Homo sapiens: one gene and its partners. The protein of the gene in region 5 interacts with the protein of the main gene of each other region in a biochemical or structural test. Each region holds a gene or a part of one and is shown on either strand. Other genes may lie near its edges. The genes, in order: RPA1, TRPV4, ATXN3, PSMC2 and RAD23B.

The links.
Region 1: the proteins of RAD23B (region 5) and RPA1 form a complex in vitro, tested with the Homo sapiens proteins (one study listed by BioGRID).
Region 2: the proteins of RAD23B (region 5) and TRPV4 interact in a test that uses a peptide from one of them, tested with the Homo sapiens proteins (one large-scale study listed by BioGRID).
Region 3: the proteins of RAD23B (region 5) and ATXN3 form a complex in vitro, tested with the Homo sapiens proteins (one study listed by BioGRID).
Region 4: the proteins of RAD23B (region 5) and PSMC2 form a complex in vitro, tested with the Homo sapiens proteins (one study listed by BioGRID).

What each region holds. Positions count from the first base shown.
Region 1 is NC_000017.11:1,834,701-1,841,410, reverse strand, and holds part of RPA1 (replication protein A 70 kDa DNA-binding subunit), read right to left. Parts: intron 1-6,710. UniProt on the Homo sapiens protein: As part of the heterotrimeric replication protein A complex (RPA/RP-A), binds and stabilizes single-stranded DNA intermediates that form during DNA replication or upon DNA stress.
Region 2 is NC_000012.12:109,821,917-109,828,626, forward strand, and holds part of TRPV4 (transient receptor potential cation channel subfamily V member 4), read right to left. Parts: intron 5,687-6,710; exon of another isoform or gene 4,894-5,686; intron 1-4,893. UniProt on the Homo sapiens protein: Non-selective calcium permeant cation channel involved in osmotic sensitivity and mechanosensitivity. Activation by exposure to hypotonicity within the physiological range exhibits an outward rectification.
Region 3 is NC_000014.9:92,075,583-92,079,082, forward strand, and holds part of ATXN3 (ataxin-3 reference isoform), read right to left. Parts: intron 1-3,500. UniProt on the Homo sapiens protein: Deubiquitinating enzyme involved in protein homeostasis maintenance, transcription, cytoskeleton regulation, myogenesis and degradation of misfolded chaperone substrates.
Region 4 is NC_000007.14:103,358,829-103,365,538, reverse strand, and holds part of PSMC2 (26S proteasome regulatory subunit 7), read right to left. Parts: intron 3,583-6,710; coding exon 3,451-3,582; coding exon of another isoform or gene 3,447-3,450; exon of another isoform or gene 3,072-3,446; intron 2,854-3,071; coding exon 2,781-2,853; intron 2,196-2,780; coding exon 2,100-2,195; intron 1,397-2,099; coding exon 1,232-1,396; intron 1-1,231. UniProt on the Homo sapiens protein: Component of the 26S proteasome, a multiprotein complex involved in the ATP-dependent degradation of ubiquitinated proteins.
Region 5 is NC_000009.12:107,322,901-107,329,610, reverse strand, and holds part of RAD23B (UV excision repair protein RAD23 homolog B), read right to left. Parts: intron 5,722-6,710; coding exon 5,594-5,721; intron 4,778-5,593; coding exon 4,607-4,777; intron 69-4,606; coding exon 1-68. UniProt on the Homo sapiens protein: Multiubiquitin chain receptor involved in modulation of proteasomal degradation. Binds to polyubiquitin chains.

The DNA of each region.
Region 1 (6,710 bases), on a different chromosome or scaffold from region 5:
AATCGCTTGAACCCAGGAGGCGGAGGTTGCAGGGAGCTGAGATCGCACCACTGCACTCCAGCCTGGGCGACAGAGTGAGGCTCCCTCTCAAAATAAAAAATAAAAAGATTAAAAAGGAACAGATAAAACTTCCTTTATTTGTAGACAATATGATCGTTTACATAGAAAATCCTAAGGTATCTATAAAAACTAGTAAGTTGATTTAGCAAGTTTGCAGGACACAAGGCTGGTGTGGAATAATCACTTGTATTTCAATATACTAGCAATAAACAACTGAAGAATGAAATTTTCAAAAATGCCACTTAAACACCATCAAAAGAACTTTCTTTATTTTATTTTATTTTTTTTGAGACGGAGTTTCGCTCTGTCGTGCTAGAGCGTGGTGGTGCAATCTCAGCTCACTGCAACCTCTAATGCCCGGGTTCAAGCAATTCTCCTGCTGCAGCCTCCCGCGTAGCTGGGGTTACAGGCATGCACCACCACACCTGGCTAATTTTTGTATTTTTAGTAGAGACAGGGTTTCACTACGTTGGCCAGGCTGGTCTCAAACTCCTGACCTCTGGTGATCTGCCCGCCTCAGCCTCCCAAAAAGTGCTGGGATTACAGGCGTGAGCCACCGTGCCAGGCTTCAAAAGTAAATTATTTAGGGATATATTTAACAGTATACATATGTAAGAACTGCACACCGAAAACTACCAACAAGGCTGCAAACGGCGGCTCTTGCCTATAATCCCAGCATTTCGGAGACGGAAGCAGGAGGATCGCTTGAGCTCAGGAGTTCGAGACCAGTCGGGGCAACAGAAGGAGACCTGTCTCTATAAAAAATTAGCCAGGTGGTGGCTCACGCCTGTAATCCTAGCACTTTGGGAGGCCAAGGTGGGAGGATCACGAGGTCAGGAGATTGAGACCATCCCGGCTAACACGGTGAAACCCTGTCTCTGCTAAAAATATAAAAAATTAACCGGGCGTGGTGGGACGTGCCTGTAGTCCCAGCTATTTGGGAGGCTGAGGCAGGAGAATTGCTTGAACCTGGGAGGCGGAGGTTGCAGTGAGCTGAGATCGCGCCACTGCACTCCAACCTGGGCAGCACAGAAAGAATCCATCTCAAAAAAAATTAGCCAGGTATGTGGTGCACACCTGTAGTCCCAGCTACTCAGAAAGCTGAGGAAGAATCACTCGAGCCCAGGAGGTCTAGGCTGTAGTGAGCTGTGATTGCACCACTGCACTCCAGCCTGGGTGACAAAGCATGACCCTGTCTCAAAACAAACAAACAAACGTCTGTTTTCATTTTCTTTTTCTTTTTTTTTATTGTACTTTGTTTCTCTATACTTCAGTGTATGCAAAGGGATCAGCACTTTGGGAGGCTGAGACAGGAGGATCGCTTGAGGTCAGGAGTTCGAGACCAACCTGGCCAACATGGTGAAACCCCGTCTCTACAAAAAATACAAAAAGTAGTTGGGTGTGGTGGCACATGCCTATAGTCCCAGCTACTCGAGAGGCTGAGGCAGGAGGATTGTTTGCATCTGGGAAGCAGAGGCTGCAGTAAGGTGAGATGGCACCACTGTACTCTACCTGAGTGATAGTAAAGCCCTGTCTCAAAAAAAAAAAAAAAAAAAAAAAAACTAGCTGGGCGCAGTCGTCCCAGCTACTCAGAGGGTGAGGAGGGAGGATCACTTGAGCCAGGGAGATAAAGCTGCAGTAAACTATGATCATGTATGTCACTGCACTCCAGCTTGGATGACTAAGTGAGATCCTGTCTCAAAAAAAAAAAAAAATGAAGCTAGAGGCCAGGCACGGTGGCTCACGCCTGTACTCCCAGCATTTTGGGAGCCCAAGGCAGGTGGATCACATGAGGTTGGGAGATCAAGACTAGCCCAGCCAGCATAGTGAAACCCCGTCTCTACTAAAAATATAAAAATTGGCTGGGTGTGGTGGCGGGCACCTGTAATCCCAGCTATTCAGGAGGCTGAGGTAGGAGAATCGCTTGAACCCGAGAGGTGGAGGTTGCAGTGAGCCGAGATCTCACCACTGCACTCCAGCCTGGCGACAGAGCTAGACTCCATCTCAAAAAAAATAAAAAATAAAAAATAAAAATGAAGCTGGAGAATTTACAATGCCAGATTTCAAGATTTACTATAAATCTTCAATGTTTATGATGATGTGGTATTGACATAAGCACCAACATAGAAATCAATTGACATTCCAGAAACAGATACACATATACAGTCCATTGATTTTATATAAAGTGACTAAGGGGCCGGGCGCAGTGGCTCACGCCTGTAATCCCAGCACTTTGGGAGGCCGAGGCAGGTGGATCACGACGAGGTCAGGAGATTGGGACCATCCCGGCTAACACGGTGAAATACCGTCTCTACTAAAAATACAAAAAAAAATTAGCCGGGCATGGTGGCGGGTGCCTGTAGTCCCAGCTACTCGGGAGGCTGAGGCAGGAGAATGCTGTGAATCCGGGAGGTGGAGCTTGCAGTGAGCCGAGATCGTGCCACTGCACTCCAGCCTGGGTGACAGAGCGAGGCTCCATCTCAAAAATAAAAAATTAAAAAAATAAATAAATAAAGTGACTAAGTAACTCAATGAAATGGGATAGTGTTTTCAATAAACAGGGCTGGAACAACTGAATATCTGTATTTAAAAAAGAGCTATATATCATAGATAAAATAGTAAACTTGAAATGCATTACAGACCACAAGGCAAAGCGAAAACTATAAAACTTCTGGAAGAAAACACAGCATAAAAGATTTGTGACCTTGGGTCGGGTAGGCAAAGATTTCTTTTTTTTTTTTTTTTTTGAGACTGAGTTTCACTCTTGTTGCCCAGGCTGAAGTGCAATGGTGCGATCTTGGCTCACCACAACCTCCACCTCCTGGGTTCAAGTAATTCTCCTGACTCAGCCTCCTGAGTAGCTGAGGTTACAGGCATGCGCCACCACGCCCGGCTAATTTTGTATTTTTAGTAGAGACGGGATTTCTCCATGTTGGTCAGGCTGGTCTCGAACTCCTGACCTCAGGTGTTCTGCCCGGCTTTGCCTCCCAAAGTGCTGGGATTACAGGCGTTAGCCACTGCACCCTGCTGTTTTTATTTTATTTATTTAATTATTTTTTTGAGACGGAGTTTTGCTCTGTTGCCCAGGCTGGAGTGCAGTGGTGCGATCTTGGCTCACTACAAGCTCCGCCTCCCGGGTTCACGCCATTCTCCCGCCTCAGCCTCCCGAGTAGCTGGGACTACAGGTGCCTGCCACCACGCCCAGCTAATTTTGTATTTTTAGTAGAGACGGGATTTCTCCATGTTGGCCAGGTTGGTCTCGAACTCTCGACCTCAGGTGATCCGCCCGCCTCAGCCTCCCAAAGTGCTGGGATTACAGGCATGAGCCACCACATCCAGCCTAGCAAAGATTTCTTAGGACACACAAACACAACTCTGCAAAAAACAAAACAAAAACAAACAAAAAAACACAACCTGATAACTTGGACTTCATGAAAATTTAAAAGTGCACTTCAAAAAAAACAAAATTTCAAAAAAGAAAAGGCAAGTCACAGATTGGGAAAAAATATATGTAATATTTATATTTAACAAAAGACCTAGCAAGAATCAAGAATTCTCACAACTCATTAATAAGCACAAAACCCAATTTTTAGGTGAACAAAAGATGTGAACAGACACTTCTTTCGTGAAGATATACAAATGGCCAGTAAGCCCACGAAAAGATGCTCAACGTCACTAGCCACCAGAGAAATACAAATAAAAGCACAGTGAGATACCATTACACATTCACTAGAATACTCGAAATCAAAGACTGATGACTGGCAAGGATATGGAGCAACTAGAATTCTCATGATCACACTGGAAAAGGTTGGCGATTTCTTTTACACATTCAGTTACCTGTGACCCAGCAATTACATTCCTAGATATTTATCCCAGAGAAACGAAAACATATTTCCACAAAAAGAGTTGTACTTAAATGGTCATAGCATCTTCATTTATAATAGCCAAAAGATGAAAATAACCCAAATGTGCAATAATAAGTAAATAAACAAATTTTGTTATAGTCATACAATGGAATACTACTGAGCCATAAAAAGGTGCAGATTACTGAATTAACATGGGTAAATCTCAAAAACCATTTTGGTCCACAGTGGTGGCTTGTGCCTGTAACCCCAACACTTTGGGAGGCCAAGGTGGGAGGATCACTTGAGCCCAGGAGTTCAAGATCATCCTGGACAACACACCAAGACTCCATCGCTACAAAAAATATTTTTAGGCCGGGCGTGGTGGCTCACACCTGTAATCCCAGCACTTTGGGAGGCTGAGGCGGGTGGATCACGAGGTCAAGAGATCGAGACCATCCTGACCACCGTGGTGAAGCCCCGTCTCTACTAAAAATACAAAAATTAGCTGGGGATGGTGGCATGCGGCTGTAATCCCAGCTACTCGGGAGGCTGAGGGAAGAGAATCGCTTCAACCCAGGAGGCAGAGGTTGCAGTGAGCTGAGATTGCGCCACTGCACTCCAGTCTGGCAACAGAGCAAGACTGTGTCTCAAAAAAAAAAAAAAAAATTTTTTTTTAATTAGCCAAGAGTGGTGGCATGCACTTGTAGTCCCAGCTACTCAGGAGGCTGAGGTGCGAGGATCTCTTGAGTTCAGGAGGTCAAGGCTGGAGTGAGCCATGACTGTGTCGCTGCACTCCAGCCTGGGTGACAGAGACCCTACCTCTGGGGAAAAAAAAAAAACTGCTGAAAGAAGCCAGACACAAAAGGATAGATATTATTTGATTCCATTTATATGAAGTCTTAGGAAAGGCAAAACTAACCTACAAAGGTAGAAACCAGAACACTGGTTGCCTAGGGTGAGGATGGAGGTGGGGAAGGAGCAAGAGGAGTTGTGCGTTGATGGAAGTATTCTATATCTCCACAGGGGCAATGTGGTTACAGGGGTGCGCACATTTGTCAAAGTTCATCAAGCTGTACATTTAAAATACGTGCAATTTGGCCGGGCATGGTGGCTTATGCCTGTAATCCCAGCACTTTGGAAGGCCAAGGCAGGAGGAGCATCTGAGGTCAGGAGTTCGAGACCAGCCTGGCCAACATAGTGAAACCCCATCACTATTAAAAATACAAAAATTAGCCAGGTGGTGGCGTGCACCTGTAACCCCAATTACTAAGGAGACTGAGGCATGAGAACTGCTTGAACCTGGGAGGCAGAGGTTGCAGTGAGCTGAGATCACGCCACTGCACTCCAGGGTGACAGGAGGAAACTCTGCCTCAAATAAATAAATAAATAAATAAAAAAGGTGCAATTTACTATACGTAAGCAAAATGTCAATGACAGTGATTTTTCTAAAAAGCAGTTATTCTGGGGAACAGTACTGGACAAGGTAAGGCAGGAGGTCAGTAATTACATTAAACACCTCTTTCTTTCTTCTTTCTAAATGAAATAGAGACAGGATCTTGCTATGTTGCCCAGCCTGGTATCAAACTCTTTCTTGGCCTCAAGGGATCCTCCTGCATTAGCCTCCCCAAGTGCTGAGAGTACACATGTGAGCCACCATGCCCGGCCATGAACACCTTTCTGTTCCGTTTGATTTTAAAACCACGTGCATGTATGAGGGGGATTCAAAAAGTACACGAAAAATGTGCATTATGAAAAAACTATGCATGCATTTCAAAAATTTTTTTTGCACTAAAATAAACTCATACTAACTTGTTATAACATGTCTGAACAAGACCTAGTTTGAGGTACTAAGAAGGATAAGACATCAGTTTGAAAAGAGCCCCTATCAGAGCAACATGAATTCTGCTAAAATGGAAACAACAACAAACAACAAATTCAAGGGGAAGGTTGGGTGGAAGAAGGATGAGATCACTTATGAAAGAAAAGTATATGGGGACGATGCTCCAAAGAAATCAGCTGTTTACAAATGTAACTCATTTTAAGGGACAAGGCCAGGCACAGTGGCTCATGCCTATAATCCCAAAGACTTGGGAGGCAAGGCAGGAGAACTGTTTGGAGACCAAGAGTTAGAGACCAGCTTAGGCAAGATGGCGAAACCCCATCTCTACACAAAATTAAAAAAAAAAAAAATTAGCTGGGCATGGTGGCATGCACCTGTACTCCCAGCTACTGGAGAGGTTGAGGTGGAAGGATCACTTGAGCCCAGGAGTTGGAGGTTGCAGTGAGCTATGATCATGCCACTGCACTCCAGCCTGAGAGACAAAGAACAAGACTCTGTCATTTAAAAAAAATTACGGCCAGGTGCAATGGCTCAAGTCTGTAATCCCAGGACTTGGGGAAGCCGAGGCGGCAGATCACTTGAGGCCAGGGGTTCAAGACCAGCCTGGACAACATGACGAAACCTCATCTCTACTAAAAATACAAAAATTAGCTGGGCGTGGTGGCGCACGTCTGTAATCGAGAGACAGAGGCAAAAGAATCACTTGAACCTGGGAGGTGAAGGTTGCAGTGAGCTGAGATTGTGCTTCTGCACCCCAGCCTGGGCAACAGAGTGAGACCCTTTAAAAAAAAAATCCCTAGTAAGTATATAAAGCAACAAATGTAATACTCAAGGGCACATGTGTTCAAATCTTCACCCCATGGACACATTATTCAACCTCTCTGTACTTCCTTCCTCTGTAAAATGGGAGTATAATAGCTATCTTCTAGGGTTACTTAAGTACTGACTACTAAAGCATCTGTCAC
Region 2 (6,710 bases), on a different chromosome or scaffold from region 5:
CCCCAGCATTCAGCATGGTGCTGAAGCAAAATGAGGTGTCAATGAATATTTGGTTTTTTTAGGCTGTAAGATCAGGGACCTGAAGTTCCAGGCAGGGTTGCAGAGCAAGGGCAGCCAGAATCCTGATGGGGAGGGGGAAAGGCTGTGAGGAGGAGGAGGAGGAAGATAAAGGGCAGAGGAGGTGTCAAGGACAAAGGTGTAGAGGGGAAAGTGCAGGGTGCACAGAGGAATGGTGTGGCCTGGGGCACAGGGAGAAGGAAAGCAGAAGAGATGGGTGAGTGGGTGGGCAGTGGGGAGGTGGGTGGGGGTTGGAATCCATGGGTAGGAAGGAGCCCACAGAGAAGGTGCTCAGGCTCCCAGACAGACCCAGTGTGCTTCTACCTCCCTCCACCCTGGGGCTCCTTAGCCAATTTGGGGGCCCCCACTTCCTGTGGTACCCTCAAATAAACACAACTGTGAGTGCCTGCCATTCCAAATCAGTCTTGCCGGGGACATGTGGATAGGAAGGTACTAGGAAGACAAGGACTCTGAGCTTTGCTGTTACTAGAGAGAAAATCCCAGACCTGTCCACCCCCTCCCCACCTTCCAGGTAAGAAAACTGAGGCTCAGAGAGGCGAAGTCATTTGTCTGGCATTGCCTTGCTCCAGAAAGGGGGAGGCAGGATTAGAACCCATGCATCCCCGGGACCTGCGCCTTTGATGGACACTTTACAAAGACAAGGGAACTCTGGGAGGGAGAAGCTGGAGAAAGAATGGAGTGGGGGATGGGTCGCAGTCCCTGACGAACCACCAGTTCACCAGCTCTGGGCAAGTCACCTGGCCTGCCCATGCCTCGGTTTCCTCACCTGAAAAATGGCAATGATCCTAGCACCTACCCCAAGGGAACTGTCGTGAGGGTTACATGAGATAAAGCATGCAAAACACTGAGCCCAGTGCCTGGTACAGAGCATGCATTCAGTCAAGCATGGCTGCTGTTGGAATCATCAGTATCAGTGTACTATTTATTAGTATCATTAGGGGAACAGATGAACAAAAGGACTGAGGACCAAGGAAGGCAATGACTCCTAGAGAAGGCAGAGCGGCCAGATCCAGAGCCTTGGAGGTAGACTCTGGCAGCCACCTCGAAGTGGCGGCTGCTGGGAACAGCCGGCTGGGAGCTCAACTCCTTGGCCAGGCGAAACCTACTGCCTGCCAGGCTACCCCACGGCTCCCAGGCACTTGGCAGGCGGCAGCAGTAGGGGGGCATCATGCCATGCCCAGCACCTTCCCTGGCCAGCCTGTATTTACCTAGCAGGTCTCGGCCCAGCCCGCTTCCTGTTTGCTGCACAGTGGCCGCCTGTCCAGGACAGACAGAGCCCCAGTGTCCTGCTGGGCCCCCACCCCATGCACTCACACCACCCAGGCAGGGCAGGTCTGGGGTGACTCACCGCGCCCCACGGAGGGCAAGGCCAGCGTGGCCACGGCAGTCATTTGGTCATTCTGCAAGCCCTTGGCTGGAGGGAGGCCGGCTGACAGCACACACAGATGCCCCTCTGAGCTTTCACAGGGACCAAGTCATTTCCAAGGGTCCCGGCCCCTGGGTAGGAGCCACCAAGAAGCGGTGTGGCTTAATGGTTAAGAGCATGCACCTTGTAGACACAAAAGGCCACATATTGCAGGATTCCATTTATATGAAATGCCCAGAACAGGCAAATCCACAGAGACAGAAAGCAGATTAGTTGTTGCCAGGGGCTGGGAGTGGGGAGTGGTGACTGCTAATGGGTACAGAGTCCTTTTTTGGGGTGATGAAAATGTTCTGGAATGAGATAGTGCTGATGTCTGTACAACTCTGAATACACTAAGAAACCAACTGAATTGTACGTTTTAAAAGACTGAGTTATGAGTATGTGAATTACATCTAAATGACCCTTCCAGGCTTAGTGACCTCAGGCAGGTCACTTCCCTCCCAGAACCTCAGTTTCCTTGTTGCAACATGGGAATGTCATGGAGATTAAGCACACATAAAGGGTTTCTTTTTTTTCTTTCTTGTGTGTGTGTGTGTGTGTGCGCATGTGTGTGTGACAGAGAGAGACAGGATCTTGCTCTGTCACCCAGGCTAGAGTATAAGTGGCACAATCTTGGCTCACTGCAACCTCCGTCTCCCAGGTTCAAGCAATCCTCCTGCCTCAGCCTCCCAAGTAGCTGGGATTACAGGTGCCCACCGCTGCGCCAGCTAATTTTTGTATTTTTAGTAGAGACGGGGTTTCACCATGTTGGCCAGGCTGGTCTCGAACTCCTGACCTCAGGTGATCCGACCGCCTCGGCCTCTCAAAATGCTGGGATTACAGGCGTCGGCCACCGTGCCCAGCCACATAAAGGGTTTCAAACAAGGTCTGGCACGTAGTAGGAGCTCAAGGATACAAAGTCACTACCCCAGGAGGCTCCAGGTCCTTCTTCCCTTATCTCGCTTCCTTCCCATCAGAGCATAGCCCCAGGATTCCACCCTCTCAGCCAGCCCTGCTTGAGAACATGCTACTCAGCTCCAGCCCAGGAGGAGGGAGGCATCAAATTCTTAGTCCGGCCGGGCGCAGTGGCTCACGCCTGTAATCCCAGCACTTTGGGAGACCGAGGTGGGCGGATCACTTGAGGTCAGAAGTTCAAGACCAGACTGGCCAACATGGTGAAACCCCATCTCTACCAAAAATACAAAAATTAGCCGGGTGTGGTAGCATGCACCTGTAATCCCAGCTACTCGGGAGGCTGAGGCATGAGAATCTCTTGAACCCAGGAGGCAGAGATTGCAGTGAGCAGAGATAGCACCACTGCACTCCAGCGGGGGCGACAAGAGCGAGACTCCATCTCAACAAAACAAAACCTTAGGCCCGCCTTCTCTCTGGCCTAGCCCCTCTCCTAGAGGATGGTCACAGCCACGGAGAACTCCAGAGAGGATTCTATAGTCTGAGAACGTTGCCTGATCAATGCTTTACATCTCATCTGCCACTCACTGGCTGTATGGTCTTGCACAAGTCACATCTCATCTCTGGGCCTTGGTTTCCTTATCTGTAAAATGGGAGTAATAATTACTACGACCTGGGTGGGGTTAAGCCGTATTTGCTCCATAGTTATTTGGTGTATAGCACATTCATGCTTTAAACTAAAAAATAAGGCTGGGTGCAGTGGCTCACACCTGTAATCCCAACACTTTGGGAGGCCAAGGTGGGAGGATCGCTTGAGCCCAGGAGTTCGAGACCAGCCTGGGCAAAATGGTGAGATCCCATCTCTACAAAAAATAAATAAATTTATTTATTTTTTAAAATATTAAAAAATAAAATAACAGCTCCTACCCCAAAGAGCTATTGTGAGGATTAAATGTGATAATTCAAGCCTTCAGTGCAGTGCCCAACAAACACCAAGTGTTCAATGAACTTGAACTTATTTTTTAGTTTAAAGCATGAATGTACTGTATACCAAATAACTATGGAGCAAATACAGCTTAACCCCACCCAGGTCGTAGCAATTATTACCCCCATTTTACAGATAAGGATGTTCAATGGCTGCTTTGCCATTCTTGCTAACATTCCCTCAGTTTGCAGTGGGAGGTGGGGGATGATGACATTGAGGTCCAGGGAGGTCAGAACTGGGCAGGCACTGGAACCCAGACTTCCCGGCTCCAAAACCAGGGCTCGTGACTGCAGAGACCTCACCTTTGGAAAGGGTTTCCTCGCCACCTCATTTCCATCTTCTGTCACCTTTAGAAGGCTGTCAGGACAAGGGCTGCCTCCCAGCTGGGAGACTAAGGACCAGAAGGGACAGGACACTCGTCCATGCATACGTTCCTCTACCCCACTTCTAGGAGCAAAAGTCCCGAGTTTGCCAAATCAGAGGAGGGGGAAGAGGGCAGGTGCCCGTTATGAGTGGATGGGGCAGGAGTCGGGGAAGGGAGCCCAAGGCAGCAGAAAACCAGTTTGAGATCCTTCCTCTGTCCCAGCCCACCTCAACACCAGTCTGTGCCAACAGTAAGCTGCTGCCTCAGGGGTTAACTGCTTGGAATTATGACTGAGGCTAATGCCTGCAATGTACCATCAGTAATGCCTACCCTCCATGGCACACTTCACACAGCACCTCCCATTTGGTTGTTTTTTGTTTTGAGACAGGGTATGGCTTTGTCACCCAGGCTGGAGTGCAGTGGCACAATCATAGCTCACTGCAGCCTCGACCTCCCAGGCTCAAGCAATCCTCCCACCTCAGCCTCCCCAGAAGCTGGGACCACAGGCATGTACCACCATTCCTACTTTTAAAATTTATTTTTTGTAGAGATGGAGTCTCACTCTACTGCCCAGGTTAGTCTCCAATGCCCGGGCTCACGTGATCCACACACCTTGGCCTCCCAAAGTGTTGTGATTACAGGCGTGAACCACCATGGCTGGCCCCTTCTATCTATTTTAATCCAAATAATAACTATAGACATTAAATATTATTGTCTCCATTCCCAGATGTATAAAGTCAGTCCCGGGGGAAAGGAGGTAAGGGCTGACATTTATCCAATACCTATCATATGCTAAGCACTTTCACATTTCTCTCTCATTTGAGGTCGGTGTTATTGTTATCATTTCACAGATGAACAAACTGAAGATCAGAAAGAATGAGATTTAACTGAGTCCACAACGCTACAGGAAGTGAATGTGGCTAGACTTCCAACCATCTGCTTTTAAATCCATTTGAGTTCATTCATCCCTTTGGGGGCTACCATGCCCTCTCCCTAGGACCCCCCTTCTCAACGCCATATCCCTTGGAACTCAGCAGGACAAGATGGCACAGTGGTGACAGGCTTGGAGTCTGAATCTTGACTTTGCCATTTAGTAACTGCGTGGCCCCAGACGGATCACTTGACCTCTCCGAGCTTCAGTTTCCTCACCTGTAAAAGGGAGCTCATCACAGTTCCCACTGCTGGATTACTTGTCATTGTGGGTATCAGAGTCTCACAAAGTGGCCTCAAAGCACTGCGTGTGGAATGATGTCACTCGGACAAAAGCTCTAGGGCGGAGGGACTCCCTTCTGGTAACTGCTGAGGCCCAGATGCCTGGAACAGGTCCTGGCACATAGCAGCTGCTCAAGATGTATTTGCTGGATGAATGAATGAATGAATGAATGAACAGAGGAAAGGAGTGAAAGACGGGCTTAGTCATTCTCTCCAGGGCAGACAGGTCTCCAAAGCGAACCTCTGCCCAGCTAACTAATTAGCTTCCTCCCATCCATTTTTTAACAGACAGCTTACGGAGCACCTGCTATGTGTGGGGTTTTCTGGCCTATAAGACCAACACCTCTCATGAGGACAACTATCGTGAGCCCATTTTATAGATGAAGAAATTGAGGCTCAACAAGACCAGGACACTCACTCAAGCACACTTGGTCTCAGAGCCAGAGCCTGTATCTGAGCAGGTGCTTCCTTCTGATGCCCTGCCTGGCTGGCTTGTCCAGTCACTCATTCCTTCCTTCATTCATCCCTTCACTCTATCTACAGGTATTCCTGAGCCCCTCCTGTGTGCCAAGCAGGGACAGGAGTGAGCCAGACCCATGGGTCAGTCAACCCCATGCCCCCTGTCCCACCCTCACCTGCTGGGGTCTCAGCCCAAAGCCCATGGAACCCACCCTCCATAAACACACACACACACACACACTACACACAAATACATATACACATTACACACATATACACATACATACACACAATATACACACATACATACATATACACGCAAACATACACACACATACACACATGCACACATAGACATTCACATACACACATACACATGTATATACATACACATATGCACACACATACACACAGACATACATATACACACATACACACATATATACACAAACATACACATAAACATATAGTCATACATATACACACATACACATATATACACATATACACATACACATATAGACATACATATACACACATACACATACACACACAGACACACATACGCACATACACACGCACATCAATATACACACACATACACACGTACACAAACACACACACAGGGAATGGTCCCAGAAGGTGGCCAGCCCACTCGGTCAACCGGGTGGAACCCAGGCCACTCCACCCTCAGGGGAAAACGGGCGCCTGGTGAGACTGAGGAGCTCTTTGTGCAAGGGGCAGGGTGGGTGGACAAGAGGGGCTGCTGTTACTCACTAACCAAAGAAATAGAAGGATATTCCCGTTTGGTCAATGGCCCGCCTGTCTGTCCCCTGAGCCCCCGCCTCCTTCTGTGGCCTTTCCAATGCCCTGACCTCATCTGGAGACCGGCAAGGGCTTCCTGTGCGCCTGGTGTGGTCTCGTGTGATCCTCCCTCACCGATGAGGAAACATGCTCAGAGAAGTGATGTAACCTCCTTGGGGTCACACAGCCGGCAGTGGCCAGGGCTCGGGGCAGAAAGGGGAAACCAATGCTCAGGAAGGGGCTAGGGGTGGGAAGGAAGTCAGAGTCACATTGAAAGTGAGGCCCTGTCCCTTCCTCATTCCTGTCCGGCCACTGGGGTGCCAGCTCATGGGCTGCAAGGGCACCCGAGGTTGAAGGAGCCCAGGCCAGAACAAGAGCAGCAGCCAGAATAACCCAAATCCCTCCTCAAGTTGGCAGAGCTCTGACCTCAGCAAAGCCCAGGAACAGAGAGCTTAAGCCACTTTCTGAGGTCACAGAGCAGCAACTGGCGG
Region 3 (3,500 bases), on a different chromosome or scaffold from region 5:
ATACTCAAAAAGGGAAAAGAAAAACTAGAAAATCGTATGAATAACAAATCAGCACCAGGGTCAATTTGGGAAGGGTGAGAGGGAAGAAAGAGTTAGCTTGATAACCTTAGACCCAAGCTCCCAAAGACAGAACCTAGAGAGACAACGAACTACCTAGGCTAAGTAATCAGGAATTTTAGTGAAAGGCAAATATTAGCTTCTTAGCTCCTACTAATGAGCTCTACAAGGTTTTGAATGCAAGCCATTGTTAAAAATGAACATCAAGAAGTTAGTTCTTAACTCTTCTCAGCAACATGTGACTATGTAAGATATTCTCAAGCTCTTTCCAAATTCTCACCAGTATTTGCAAAGTCAAGCCAAGAGGCTGAAGCTGGTAACCATCACTGCACACTTTCCTCCTCAATCAATCCTCCACCAAGTAGGAAGGAGGTATATCGATATTCGAACATTTTTAAAAGGGTACAAGGTTGCCTGACCCTGTTTACTAAAAAGCACTAGTTATTGCTGACATTGTACTTGTTATAACTTACTTAGTCATTATTGGACATTACTGAATTATCGTTACTACTATAAAAAGTTCAGGCCGAGTGCAGTGGCTCATGCCTGTAATCCCAGCATGTTGGGAGACCCAGGCTGGCAGATTGCCTGAGATCAGGAGTTCGAGACCAGTCTGGCCAACATGGTGAAACCCCCTCTCTACTAAAAATACAAAAAAATTAGCCCGACGTGGTGGCATGCGCCTGTAATCCCAGCTACTTGGGAGGCTGAGGCAGGGGAATTGCTTGAACCAGGGAGGTGGAGGTTGCAGTGAGCCGAGATCGCGCCACTGCACTCCAGACTGGGTGACAAAAGCGAGACCTCGTCTCAAAAAAGAAAAAAAAAAAAAAAAAAGCTCAATTTGTTGGAAGTTTCATATTTTTAATCCAGTTTTTAAAAAATTTTAAGTAAAAGAGCAGTTTATTTTTATGCTTTAAATATACTTTTCTTTTCTTAGATATACCTGTAAATTTTGTATTATAGTTTCTCTATGATGTATGTCTTTAGACCATTTTATTTTGACAAAAAAGACTCTGATGGCTGGGCGCGGTGGTGCACGCCTGTAATCCCAGAACTTTGGGAGGCCGAGGTAGGCAGATTGCCTGAGCTCAGGAGTTCGAAACCAGCCTGGGCAACATGGTGAAACCCCATGTCTACAAAAGACACAAAAATTAGCCAGGCATGGAGGCACTTGCCTGTAACCGCAGCTACTTGGGAGGCTGAGGCAGAATAATCGCTTAAACTCAGGAGGCGGAGGTTGCAGTGAGCCGAGATCATGCCACTACACTCCAGCCTGGGTGACAGAGTGAGATTTCGTCTCAAAAAAAAAAAAAAAAAAAAGTCTGAAATAAACATGGTGAAAGTATCACATGGGAATTATTCTGGAAAGCAATTTAGAAATCTGTTCCAAGGCCTTAAAAATGTTCATATCCTTTAACCCAATAATCTGACATCCTCAGAAAAACTAGAAGAAATGATAAGACATTTGAGGTGTAGAGGCAATATAAGAATTGTTCATTGCAATATTAATTATAATAGCAGAATTCAAAAGGCTCACATATAAATTATGCCACATCCATTCATTTTATGAAATATCATGCAGCCTGTTACAAAGACTATTTACTGTCATAGGAAATGAGTACAACACTTACAAGGTAAGTGTGTATATGTCACAGAAAAAGAATGTGCCAAAATACTAACATCAGTCACTGAAGGAGGTGAGAGTATGCTTTCTTTTTTTTTTTTGAGACAGAGCCTCGCTCTGTCGCCCAGACTGGAGTGCAGTGGTGTGATCTCTGCTCACTGCAAGCTCCACCTCCCGGGTTCATGCCATTCTCCTGCCTCAGCCTCCAGAGTAGCTGGGACTACAGGTGCCTGCCACCACACCCAGCTAATTTTTGTGTATTTTTTAGTAGAGACGGGGTTTCACTGTATTAGCCAGGATGGTCTCCATCTCCTGACTTCGTAATCTGCCTGCCTCGGCCTCCCAAAGTGCTGGGATTGCAGGCATGAACTACCGCGCCCAGCCTTTTTTTTTTCTTTTTGAGACAGTATCTCGCTCTGTCACCCAGGATAGAGTGCAGTGGCACAATCTCGGCTCACTGCAACCTCCACCTCTGGGTTCAAACGATTCTCCTGCCTCAGCCTCCAAAGTAGCTGTGATTACAGGTGTGCACCACCATGCCCAACTAATTTTTTTGTATTTTTAGTAGAGACAGGCTTTCGCCATGTTGGCCAGGTTGGTCTTGAACTCATGGCCTCAAGTGATCTGCCTGCCTCAGCCTCCCAAAGTGCTGGGATTACAGACATGAGCCACTACGCCTGGCCATGTATGCTTTAATTTCTATATTTCTTTTCTCTTTTTTTTTTTTTTGAGGCGGAGTTTCACTCTGTCACCCAGGCTGGAGTGCAGTGGGGTGATCTCAGCTCACTGCAACCTCTACCTCCTGGGTTCAAGCGATTCTTCTGTCTCAGCCTCCTGAGTAGCTGGGATTACAGGTGCCCATCATCATGCCTGGCTAATTTTTGTATTTTTAGTGGAGACAGGGTTTCGCCATGTTGGCCAGGCTGGTCTTGTACTCCTGACCCTCCTGACCTCAGGTGATCCGCCCACCTCAGCCTTCCAAAGTGCAGGGATTAGAGGCGTGAGCCACCGTGCCCAGCCAATTTTGATATTTCTTAAAATAAAATTTTTAGAATGTTAGTTTTTCTAATTAAGTAGATTTAAGTTATTTTTTATTATTTATTTATTTATTTATTTGAGATGGAGTTTCACTCTTTTTGCCCAGGCTAGAGTGCAATGGCACGATCTCGGCTCACCGCAACCTCGCCTCCCGGGTTCAAGTGATTCTCCTGCCTCAGCCTCTCAAGTAGCTGGGATTACAAGCATGCGCCACCACGCCTGGCTAATTTTTTGTATTTTTAGTAGAGATGGGGTTTCTCCATGTTGGTCAGGCTGGTCTTGAACTCCTGATCTCAGGTGATCTGCCCACCTCAGCCTCCCAAAGTGCTGGGATTACAGGTGTGAGCCACCGCGCCTGGCCTTAGATTTATTTTTTACATTAACTAGATAATTGATGATATAGAATTACAATTAATTATTATGATTATTATTTTATGACAATAGCATTTAACTATGTTAAAAATAAAGCTAATATATTTTAGAGACACATATTAAAATGGTTATAGAATAATATGATGATTGAGATTTGTTACAAAATAATCCAAACTTGCAGGTGGGACAGTGGAAAGAATGGGAGATGGGAGTATTATAAAACGAGATTGGGCCGGGCTCAGTGGCTCATGCCTGTAATCCCAGCACTCTGGGAGGCCGAGGCAGGTGGATCACTTGAGGTCAGGAGTTTAAGGCCAGCCTGGACGACATGGTGAAATCCCGTGTCTACTAAAAATACAAGAATTAGCCAGGCATGGTGGTGTGTACCTGTAATCCCAGCTACTTGGGA
Region 4 (6,710 bases), on a different chromosome or scaffold from region 5:
TCATGCCTCGGCCTCCCGAGGAGCTGGGATTACAGACATGCGCCACCACACCCGGCTTTTTCTATTTTCAATGGAGACGGGGTTTCTCCATGTTGGTCAGGCTGGTTTCCAACTCCTGACCTTAGGTGATCCGCCTGCCTCTGCCTCCCAAAGTGCTAGGATTACAGGCATGAGCCACCGTGCCTGGCCTATCTAAACTTTTTTTAAAAAAGACTGAAGTTTGCTCCCCAGTCCACCAAATTAATCTTGCCAGCCTTAAAATATTAAGTCATTTTCATGATTCTGTATCTATTAAATAGCAATAGGTTTCAGATCTGAAGAGGTCAAATTAATAGTTAAATAAAGGAACCATTCTAATTAGTAAAACTTGAGTAAATAAAAGCATCTGATCTATCACTTGGAATTCCTGATCATTGAATTTGACTTGCAAGTTTTAGTTAGGGAATAAAAGGATACCTCAACTCACGCAGCTCCGTAGCTAATTCTTATTGTAAATATACGAATCATCAACAGGTTTCAGATACAATACATATAGCCCTAGACTTATTCTCTAAATATATATATATATATATATATATATGTATGTCTACAAACATAAAAACAACCTATGTTCTCACTTTCTCATTAGGACTGAAAACACTGCCCCTGAAGTAAAAGTATACTTTTTAATTAATTTACCAGGCATTTCCGTAGAAAAGCCACATCTGTAGAAAATGTCACCCTTTTGAGGAGGGGGCATACTGGTTAAAATTTTAAGTGGTTGCCTATCTCCAAATGACCACAAAGGCAGCTTCTAAACTACTAATTACAATCAAGAAATTTCAGGTCTCAGGCCGGGCGTGGTGGTTCTTGCCTATACTACCAGCACTCTGGGAGGCCAAAGCAGATGGATCACTTGAGCCCAGGAGTTTGAGACCAGCTGGGCCACATGGTAAAACCCCTCTCTACAAAAAATAGAAAAATTAGCTGGGTGTGGTGGCATGTAGCCATGGTCTCAGCTACCTGAGAGGCTGAGATGGGAGGATCGCCTAAGCCCAGAGAGGTAGAGACTGCAGTGAGCTGAGATCATGTCACTGCACTCCAGCCTGGGCAACACAATGAGACTCTGTCTCAACAAAAGAAAAAAGAAATTTCAGGTCTGGATCCCTCAATGCAGAAGTGCCATTTTTAATTTCATTCATACTGTAAAATCTTTCACAAGGCTATATATTCTTTGATAAATTTACTTTACCTCACCGACGTATTTCTGTACAAGCTCAGATCCAATAACTCGAATGAAGCACGCATCAGTCCGATTAGCAACTGCCCGCGCACAGAGTGTCTTGCCTGTACCGGGTGGACCAAAGAGCAGCACGCCCTTGGGAGGCTCAATGCCAAGGTTCACAAACCTCTCTGGCTGTGATAGAGACACAATTTTCACACTTACCACTTCTGTATAACAAAAATCAGACTACTTCTAAATCAACAAAGTGCTTTTATGTTTAGTATTTTATCCTGAAAACCATACTTTAATATTTAAATCAAAATTATTAAGTCCACAATATACATACTTGAACTAAATAAGAAATTTTACTTATTCTAAGACATAAGTTCTAAACTGGACTTCTATCAATACATAAGACTAAATGGCTTTTAAAAAGCACTTCCATTATCCAGTCTTAAAATATTTTCCTAATTTAAAAAAAATTATGGTGTTTAAGGAACAAAATTATCTGGTATTCAGTATCCTAGTTTTCCATTATCCTCCCAAGTTTAACCTGCTTCAATTTAAGCCCCTTTCTTCTCGATGTCTTTTGAAGAACCAGTTTCTTCTATAATAGCCTGTAACATATTTAACATATTGCTAAAGGTTACACTGTGCCTCCTCTGTCACTGTAAACAGCAGATCTTTCTTTTTTAAATATACCTGACCACTCAATCCTTTTTGCTTGCTCTCCCCTAGAACTTACCAACTCTCCACACCTCCTCTCTCCACCCTCTCAAAAAACTCTCATTAGGGAAAATATTAAAAGCCATCTAATATACAAGCAATTTTAGTGCTCAATACACAAAAGACATCTTTATACAAAGAAATTTAAATACAACACTCAGCTACTTACATGAAGTAATGGGGTTTCAACTACTTCTCGCAGTTTCTCAATCTGTTCCTTACAGCCACCAACATCACTGTATGTGACATCAGGTTTCTCTTCCACCTAAGAGAGGGACAGAAATGTACAACATACAGTCACAGGCTTTTTGGATACTGTCCAAATTCAATAGAATAGACCTAATACCTTAAAAGAAAAACTCACAAGTGAGAATTTTAATAAAAATTGAATACATTGCCCAGTGCCCTGGAACTACTTGCTGTATTAACTTGTTATGACACTAATGAATGAAAAACAAACTAGTAAAATAAAGACAGGCTGAGACTCTGTCTCAAAAAATATATATATAAAATACTGCCGGGCTCAGTGGCTCACGCCTGGAATCCCAGCACTTTGGGAGGCTGAGGCAGGCCAAACACTTGAGGTCATGAGTTCGAAACCAGTCTGGCCAACATGGTGAAACACCGTCTCTACTAAAAATACAAAAATTAGCTGGGCGTGGTGGCGGGTGCCTGTAATCCCAGCTACTCGGGAGGCTGAGGCAGGAGAATTGCTTGAACCCGGGAGGCAGAGGTTGCAGTGAGCCAAGATCACACCATTCTACTCCAGCCTGGACAAGAGTGAAACTCCGCCTCAAAAAAAAAAAAAAAAAAAGACATAGCCTTCCTTTTCCCTCCCATAGTTTCTTACCTGCATCATGGTAACTGTTGGGTCAATCTTAGGAGGCAATGGAATGTGAATTTGATATTTATTTCTATCCACGCTAAGGAAGTAAAAAAGATAGTCATTAATACATTCTTTAAGCTTTCAAAGTGCTTTTATGTTTAGTCCTTTATCCCCAAAACCATACTTTAAGAAAACAAGAGAGAGACAGAGTCCCTAATTATATAAAGAGAAATAAAGAGAGCATGAAATCTGAGGATACTAAACTACATGTCTAATGTCGCAAACAACCTATCCAACAGCAATCAAACCTTTGAGGAGGGAGGGGAGATTTTTTTTTAATTTACTAAGTGAGTTGTTATGTATTCTATAGACATTAACACACTTAGCATCACAACTATCCTAAAGCAAGTACTCCCCCAACCTATACCATGTTACCTTAAATGGACTGGTAACCTCAACTCTGAAATTTGAAGCCATTCATAATAAACAACAGTGGGAGTAGGGGAGTCAGCGAAGCCGATGGGAAGTTAGGAAGCAGATGCAGAAGACAGAATTTTCAACTATAGTACATTACTAGATCATCCTTTGGTATTCCAAGGAACTCAGTCCATTTATTCACTACAAAGCCAAGGATATGAATGTGAGACAGTATCCTTAGTGAAAGAAAAGTATTTATTGTAAATAGAAATCTTACCCCACTCTCATCCCTTCTTCAATGTCAGTAGGTGCCACCTGATCACTAAGGTCCACCACAAACTTGGCAAACTGCTTTACGTTGATAATGTATTTTGGGTCCTCCGAATCAGCATTGATTATCTTTGTACACCTAACACAGCAAAAAGCTTGATTAGAATAAGGAACCTAAGCCACTAATAATGAATTCAACTAACTAGATTATATCCTGAGTGTGCAATATACAGGTATAAACTAGAACTACAGAAACTGGGACACTGTTAAAGATCCTTTTCTATACCCAACTCCAAAGGTCCATTCGACTTTAGCCAAGTCATAAAATTTTCAAATACATTCTCCTGGAAAATTAAACCCAAATATCTCATCATTAAGAAGTTCTCTGATTTCTTGATTTCCATAGTTTGTATTCCTTTATTATTAGTGATGCTCCTGTATATCTTAAGTTGCTCTCGTTTTTATTTTCCCTACAAAAAGATGGTCATCTTGTCTTACACCAAATTCAGTAATAAATGGGTTTTCATTCTTTTCCTGAGTTTATACTTTAAATCCGTTTTTCTTTTTTTTTTTTTTTTTTTTTTTGAGATGGAGTTTCACTCTTGTTGCCCAGGCTGAAACACAATGGTGTGATCTTGGCTCACTGCAACCTCCACCTCTTGGGTTCATGCAATTCTCCTGCCTCAGCCTCCCGAGTAGCTGGGATTACAGGCATGCACCACCATGCCTAGCTAATTTTGTATTTTTTTTTTTTTTTTTAGTAGAGAGGGGGTTTCTCTTGAACTCCCAACCTCAGGCTAGTCAGGCTGGTCTCGAAATCCCAACCTCAGGTGATCCGCCCGCCTCAGCTTCCCAAAGTGCTGGGATTACAGGCGTGAGCCACCACACCCGGACTTTAAATCCATTTTTATTGTTTTTGCTACTTTTTTCTTTTTTTAACTGAGGCAGTAGAAGCTTGTTTTTTTTTCTTTTTCTTTTTTTTGAGACAGAGTCTTGCTCTGGAGCCCAGACTGGAGTGCAGTGGTGCGATCTCGGCTCATTACAATCTCCGCCTCCTGGGTTCAAGCAGTTCTCCTGCCTCAGCCTCCCAAGTAGCTGGCATTACAGGAATGCGCCAGCACGCCCGGCTAATTGTTTTGTATTTTTAATATATACGGGGTTTCACCATGTTGGCCAGGCTGGTTTCAAACTCCCGACCTCAAGTGATCCACCTGCTTCGGCCTCCCAAAGTGCTGGGATTACAGGCGTGAGCCATTGCACCCGGCCAGTAGAAGCTATTTTTAACTTAATTATATTCATTTCCATATGGCCTGGTAAAAATGAATTTATAATGCCATGCACATCACAGTATAAAATAGTCAACCGCCTTTCCCCTTCTATAGTATCTATCTACTAAAGAAAAACAAAAACAAAAAACAGAACTCACATTAGAAAGCTGCTACATAAGCCACAGCAAGAATTACAGAGAAATACAAAAATAGCCTGTGGAGTGCGCACATAGGTAGAGCTAAAAGTAAGGTACAGAATGCTTTGGCTTAGCCAGGTGTGGTGGGATGCACCTGTAGTCCCAGCTACTGAGGAGGCTGAGGCTGGAGGATCACTTGAGCCCAGGAGGTCAAGGCTAAAAAAGAATGCTTTGTCCTGATAGCATAATTGTGTGAAGGACTCTGTTTTCTGTTACCAACCATGTTTGCTAGGGAAGAAGAATTATACCCATTCTCTACCAAAAAAAAAGAGGCTGACCAAAAAACCTGAAAGGAAAAACAAGAACAACAAACAGCAATAATACCAAACCCTGGGGAAAGGAAGAATTTGATTTCCAGAGGTGACACATTACATTATTTTAAATGTCTAGTTATCACCAAAAAGTTATGAGATGCAAAACATTATGAAATGCATTTTCCCTTATGTATGACATTATGGCTCATACATAAGGGGAAAAAAATCAGTCAATAGAAATTGTCCCTTAAGAAGCCTAGATGTTGGTGTTATTAAACAAAACTTTTTTTTTTTTTTTGAGACGGAATCTCACTGCTGCCCAGGCTGGAGTGCAGTGGCGCGATCTTGACTCACTGCAACTTCCGCCTCCCACGTTCGAGCAATTCTCCTGCGTCAGCCTCCTAAGTGTCTGGGATTACAGGCGCCTGCCACCACGCCCAGCTAATATTTTTATATTTTTAGTAGAGACAGGTTTCACCATGTTGGCCAGGCTGATCTCAAACTCCCAACCTCAAGTGATCCACCTGCCTCAGCCTCCCAAAGTGCTGGGATTACAGGCATGAGCCACTGCGCCCAGTCAAACAAAAACCTTAAATCAGTACAAGAAATATTTTCAAAAAGCTAAAGGAAACCATATCTAAAGAGTTTATAGGAATGATGAGAAGAATGTCTCACCAATAGTGAATACAGATAGAGAAATTAGACTGGAATATTATTTGGCCATAAAAAGTTCCATCTATTTTAGAATACGGATGAACCTTGAAATATGCTAAGTGAAGGAAGCCATGTACTATATGATTCCATTTAGATGATATGTCCAGGATAGACAAATTCATAGAAACAGAAAGTAGATAAATGGTTGCCAGGGGCTGGAAAGAGACGGGAATGAAGACTGCTAATGGGTATTGGGTTTGTTTTTGGGGTGACAAAAATATTCTATTCTGGAATTAGATAGTGATGATCAATGCACAATTTTCTAGATATTCTAAAAATCACTAAATTGTATACTTTAAAAGAGTGAACCTCATGATATCTGAATTTTATATCAGTAAGATTGTTATTAAAAAAATTCATAAGCTGGCTGGGCACGGTGGCTCACACCTGTAATCCCAGAACTTTGGGAGGCCAAGGTGGGCAGATGGCTTGAGCCTAGGAGTTCAAGAGCAGCCCAGGCAACATGGCAAGACCCTGTCTCTACTAAAAATTAAAAAAAAAAAAAAAAAAAAAAAAAAAAAAAAGCCAGACATGGGGTGGTATGCACCTGTGGTCCCAGCCACTTGGGAGGCTGAGGTGGGAGCCCAGGAAGCAGAGGCTGCAGCGAGCTGAGATCATGTTACTGCACTCCAGCCTTGGTAACAAAGTGAGACCTTGTCTCAAAAAAAAAAAAAAATTCACAAGCTAAAAATTACACATACACAAATTTTATCAAGAGTTTTAAGCAAAGAGTATGAGACTAAAATCAATGGAAACTTTTTCAAAATAATCTTTGCTTTCTTTAAGGCCTGGGATCTTGTAGGGGTATAGGGCTCTTTAGCTAGTCTGTCTGTT
Region 5 (6,710 bases):
TTCTCATTCTTCTCACAAGCAAAATACGCTTGTATCACAAGTCCTTCAGGAAATCCTAATGCCTTTAACTGGAAGAAAAAGGAAAAAAATATAAATCCAACACACCAATTATGGCACATTTAATTTTATTTACATATTATAGATTCCAGCATAGCACTAAAGATAAATCATTACTCAAAAACATACTGCAACCCAAAAAAGCTCTTGAGAATTTTACATGAATTCATCTCTATCAATATGGATTTACTGCCCAACCCAAGGGATTAGATGGAATCTAGACCCTTTCCTTTACTAATCACCTAAAAAAGTCTTTGTTTCTAGTTAAAGCTTAATAGATACTATGCAAATACTCTTTGGCCTAATTAAAAATTAGCTGCTAACTGCTATGGTTTAAAAATAAATGACTCTACAGAAATATGTAAATCAAATGGCTTTTAGTATATTAAGAGTGAAGATAAGGATGAGAGTACCTGCAGTATAGTTTAACCACCTCACCTATTTCTAAATTAAAAGCAAATTATGTTTTATTTATTAATGTCAACTCATGTCTTTCATTTGGATCAAACATCACTCTCAATCTCCTTGCTTTATTCAACACTCCATACTAGAAAAACAGGTGACCAATTATTAGTAATACATGGTACATTTTGAAGATAATGTTCTATTTTTATCTGCTTAACAGTTACAGCATTTTAAATGGTAATACCAGCTACTTAATTTCATTTTCCTAGTCTATTATATTAAAAATCACTTGTGACAATACTCACTCCTTTTAAAAGCCTTTAAAAACTCAGCCAAATGTCACCCTCCTCAATTGTCTCAATCACCTTGAGTTAGATCACAGGTCCCAAACCCCAAGACCGTGAACTGGCACCAGCCATTGGCCTGTTAGGAACTGGGCTGCCCAGGAGCAGGTGAGCAGTGGGTGAGCAAGGAACTGGGCCGCACGGGAGGAGGTGAGCAGTGGGCGAACAAGTGAAGCTTCATCTGTATTTACAGCCACTCCCCATCACTCGAATTACCACCTGAGCTCCGTCTCCTGTTGTATCAGTGGCGGCATTAGATTCTCATATGAGCATGAACCCTACTGTGAACTGTGCATGAGAGGGATCTAGGGTCTGTGCTCCGTATGATAGCCTAACAAATGCCTGATGATGTGAGATGAAACAGTTTCATCCCAAAACCACCGCCCCACCCCACTTCCTAACCTAACTAACGCCTGATGATCGGAGGTGGAACAGTTTCATCCCAAAATCACTGCGCCCACCCCACCTATGTTGGTAGAAAAAAAGGTCTTCTACGTAACTGGTCCCTGGTGCCAAAAAGGTTAAAGACTGCTGTGTCAGATTATATTTGGAAATAACCCTTAAAATTTGGGCAAAAATCCCAATTCATCACGAATAACTATTCATCTATGAAAGCAGAAGAAACTAAAAAATCAGTTTGTTATCTGGGTTTTATCCAGATTAAAGCTAGGATAGGTGAAGTAAAGGGTACAATCCAACTGCCTGCTTCTACAAAACACACAATTTAGATTCAAAGACACAAGTAGGTTGAAAGTAAAATGATAGAAAAAGGTATATACTATGCAAATGGTAACCAAAAAAGAGCTAGAATGGCTATATCAGAGGAAACAGATTTAAGATAAAAATTGTTACTATAGACAAAAGGCATTTTATGATAAAAAGGGTTCAGGAAGACACAACAATTATATATAACAGAGCCACAAAATACATAAAATAAAAACTGAGAATTAAAGGTAGAAATTGGCAATTAACAATAATAGAGACAACTACAGCTCCACCTTCAATAATAGATAAAACAGCTAAGGAAGAAGACTTGACTACAAACTAGATCTATCAGATATTTATAGACCACTTAATAAGAACTACACTATATTCTTCTTCAGTATACATAGAACATTCTTCAGAAATACCATGTTAGGCCACAAAACGAACCTCAATAAGTTGAAAAGTATTGAAAGTATATTCTCTGATTATAATGGAATGAATTTAGAAATCGAAAGGAGAAAATGTGGGAAATTCATAAACTTGTGGAAATTAACACAATCCTAAATAACGAATGAATTAAATTAGAAACCAAATGGGAAATTAAAAAACATTTTGAGATGAAAGAAAGCAAAAATACAACATACTAAAACTTATGGGATGCTACTATAGCATAAACGCAGAAGGAATATTATAGCTATAAACATCTATGCTAACAAAGATAGATAATAATTTAATCTTAAACTAAAACTAAACAAAGAACTAAACTAAACCTAACCTAAAAAAGGAAGAACAAACTAGAAGCAAGCAAGAGGGAAATAAACATTAGAGAGACTTAAAACAAAACAAAACAAAAGACTAGAAAAACAATAGGGAGAATCAACAAAACCCAAAGTTATTTTTGTCATTAACAACAACCACCACAAAATGAACAAAATTAAAACCTTTAGCTAAACTGAAGGGAAAAAACAAAAATATCTTAGGACTCAAATGACTGAAATCAGGAATAAATGCAGGAACATTATTACTTTATCAAAAGAGGAAATAAAATGATTATAAGGAAATATGTACAATTGCACGCCAACAAATTAGACAGCTTAGATAAAATAGACAAATTCCAAGTCAAAAACCACCAAAACTGACTCTAAAAGAAATAGAAAAGTTGGCCGGGTGCAGTGGCTCACGCCTGTAATCCCAGCACTTTAGGAGGCCGAGGCGGGTGGATCACGAAGTCATGAGATCGAGACCATCCCTGGCTAACATGTTGAAACCCCGTCTCTACTAAAAAAATACAAAACAAAATTAGCCGGGCATGGTGGCGGGTGCCTGTGGTCCCAGCTACTCGGGAGGCTGAGGCAGGAGAATGGTGTGAACCCAGGAGGTGGAGCTTGCAATGAGCGGAGATCACGCCACTGCAATCCAGCCTGGGCAACAGAGCGAGACTCTGTCTCAAAAAAAAAAAAAAAAAAAAAAAAGAAATACAAAAGTTGAATAGACAAGTAACAAGAGACTGAATCAATAATCACAAAACTTCCCCCCAAAAAAAGCCCAGGACCAGACTACTGGTGAATTCTATCAACTATTCAAAAAATTCACACCAATTCTTTTTTTTTTTTTTTTTTGAGACAGAGTCTCGCTCTGTGGCCCAGGCGGGAGTGCAGTGGCGCAATCTCGGCTCACTGCAAGCTCCGCCTCCCGGGTTCACGCCATTCTCCTGCCTCAGTCTCCCGAGTAGCTGGGACTACAGGCGCCCACCATCACGCCTGGCTAATTTTTTTTGTATTTTTAGTAGAGACGGGGTTTCACCGTGTTAGCCCACACCAATTCTTAATAAATACTTCCAGACAACAGGAGAGAATAATTCCCAACTCACCCTAAGAGGCCAGTATTACCCAGACACCAAATTCAGACAAAAACATCACAAAAAAACTACAGACCAATATGACTTATGAACAGATGCAAAAATCCTCAACAAAATACAAGCAGGCTAAATCCAGCAACATATAAAAAAGATCATATGCTGTAACCAGTAAAATTTATCTCAGAAATGCAAGGTTGGTTCAACATACAAAATCAATCAATGTAATAAAGCATACTAAAGGACAAAAATCACATGATCATCTTAATAAAGAAAGAAAAAAAATTTGACAAAATCCAACACCTTTTCGTGATGAACAAACTAGTAACAGAAGAGAATTTCTTCAATCTGATAAAGGGCATCCACAAAAAACCCATAGATAATATCATACTTAGTGATGAAAGACTGAATGCTTTCCCTTAAGATCAAGAACCAGACAAGGATGTTGTTGGTTCTTGCTAGTCTAATAATATACTGGAGGCTCCAGATAGGGCAGTTAAATAAGACAAAGAAATAAAAGGTATCCATATTGGAAAAGAAGTAAAACTGTCTCCATGTGCAGATGACATGACCTTGTATATGGAAAATCCTAATGAACACATGCACAAACTACTTAATGAATAAATAACAGTTCAAGAAGGTTTTATGATAAAAGATCAATATACACAATTAAATTGTATTTTTATATAGTTAGCAATGAACAGTCTGAAAATGAAATTAAGAGAAAAATCCATTTATAACAGCATCAAAAAGAATAAAAATACTTCGAAATAATTTTAACAAAAGTATTACACAACTTCTACACTGAAAACTACAGGACACTATTGAAAGAAATTATAGAAAAACCTTATTATTAATATGTGACTTCTGAGCATTTGAAATGGGGCTAGTGTGACTAAGGAATTTTTTTTTTTTTTTTTTTTTTTTTTTTGAGACAGAGTCTCACTCTGTTGCCCAGGCTGGAGTGCAGTGGCACAATCTCGGCTCACAGCAACCTCCACCTCCCAGGTCCAAGCAATTCTCCTGCCTCAGCCTCCCAAGTAGCTGAGATTACAGGTATGTGCCACCACGCCAGCTAATTTTTGTATTTTTAGTAGAGATGGGGTTTCACCACGTTGGCCAGGCTGGTCTTGAACTCCTGACCTCAGGTGATCCACCTGCCTTGGCCTCCCAAAGTGCTGGAATTACAGGCATGAGCCCAGCCAAGAACTAATTTTTTTAAAGTTTTACTTAAACTCACCCTTTCTATAGCTTCTTTTTCCTGAGGTGTTACTTGAATGTAGTTCATATGACCACTTCCAGCTTCTGCAATTCCTCCACTGCCACCTCCACCTCCTCCTCCTTGACCACCAGCTTCTTGAACTGGTTCATTTAACATCTGAATAAAATGCTCCTGGTGTTGGCTAATTTGCTGTGGTGATATGAAGGACAGAGAAAAATAATACACTGATATTAAGTATCTGCAGGAACAGAGAAATTCTAAATATTACTAAGAGAAAAGGCTACACTTTTGCAAACGTAATTTAGTGATTCTGGATTATTCAGTCTTTGGAAGGATGTGATTTCTTATACAATAGTAAAGAAATTCAGTACTTTTGGGCAAAGTAAACAGTGAAGAAATTCAAATTCTTAAGTGCTCTGAGCCTCCTGTGCTTAAAAAAACAAAACAAACAAAAAACAAACAAAAAAAACTACTGTGGGACTATAAGAATAGAACTTATTCTTAATACTTGCATGTATTTTTTACCTTCCACACTAGTGGGCATTAAAATGCTGTATAAAATTCAAATACTTGGTGATCTGATCACTAAAGAAGCCCCACAGCTATTTTTTCTAAGAGTAAGTTGTTCCTGTTGCTTAAAAGTTCCTAAGAAAAAGGAACTGAGTAATAAGCTTGTGAAAAGTGATTTAAAGTTAGGCAGTTTCTCTGTTAAACAGCTTCCCAAATTCTTTAACATATTAATGTGTAGTGGGAATCTCCAAAAAGGAAATATAAAATGTTTCCCAAACTTACTACTATTTGGTCAACTTAATTTAACCCAACCTCCATATCCCAACTGTTTTTTTAGTACACCTATCTAGATTACAATATCTAAGTGTAGCTTGGAAGAAAACATTCACATTCTCAAATACAGAGTTGTATTTGAGGAGGGGAAGGACCGTTCATGGACTTTTTCAAATTGTGACACACTCTAAATCACTTGTGAAACTGACACTGATTAGTCACCTGAAGTAATTGAGGATTCTCTCGACCTATCTGCTGTAGTAACGCTGGAAGCAAGGAAGGATTCTGCTGAATAATTTGTCTCATCTGTTGAAACTGAGGCTGATTCCGTAAAAATTCAAGGGGATGTCCTAAAATACACATAAACATTTCTAAACAAAAGCAGTAAATACATACACAAACAGTGGTTAAATAATACATTTAGACAGCAAACACTATCAAAGAAAAAATGATTTGAGTTCTCAGATGTAATAAAATGAAGTAAATAATGATGAAATCTTCCAACTGTACCAACTTGCAAGTTTTATACGGCAAAAATTACTCCTATTAGCAAAGGCAGGGAGTGCAGAACGCTGACTGTAATATGAACCAAACTTTCCTATAATTGCCCTTGGCACTCAACGTTATAAAATAATACTAGAAACTTGTCTCCTGTGTGTGTTCTATCAAAATAAAAAGTACTAAAAGTTGTTCCTGTTGCTTAAAAGTTCCTAAGAAAAATATACACCACAACAAAAACAAAAACTCACTTACTTTATAAACAATGAAAACCCCTAAAAGAACACAATCTGAGCTTGAATTCCTAGGAATTCAAGAAACCAAAGAAGAAAAAGATATTTAAAGTCTGAGGTCAGGTTTTGCAAATCAGGAGAAACTTTAATCCAAACTTACATTAAGGAAGACTTCCGGTTATTACCATTAATTTTCAAACATTTGTGAACTACAAAAACTCGGATAAATAAGCTGTATGGCAATCTAGTACTAATATATCTAAACTCTTCAGTCTAAAATCCATTCACAATAATAAATGTTAATAATGCCAAATAAAATATAAAATACAGAACTTCTGGCTTTTTCAGGGTGCTGGTACTTGTCTGGTTATGCTATAGGAAACCAAAAATCGTACATACAGGAATTGTTTTTGAGGTTACTAATGAATAAAAGAGAATTTTTAGATGTATGTTGTAATTTCCTATTCAGGAAGACAATCATTCCAATTGAAATGACCACAGCACATGGGTTTTTTGTTCTTCCATATATAATACCAGCTTTACAGGTGAAGGCAACGAGACTTAGAGACTATGTCACCTAATAAGTGCTGAAAGGAACAGGACCCCAA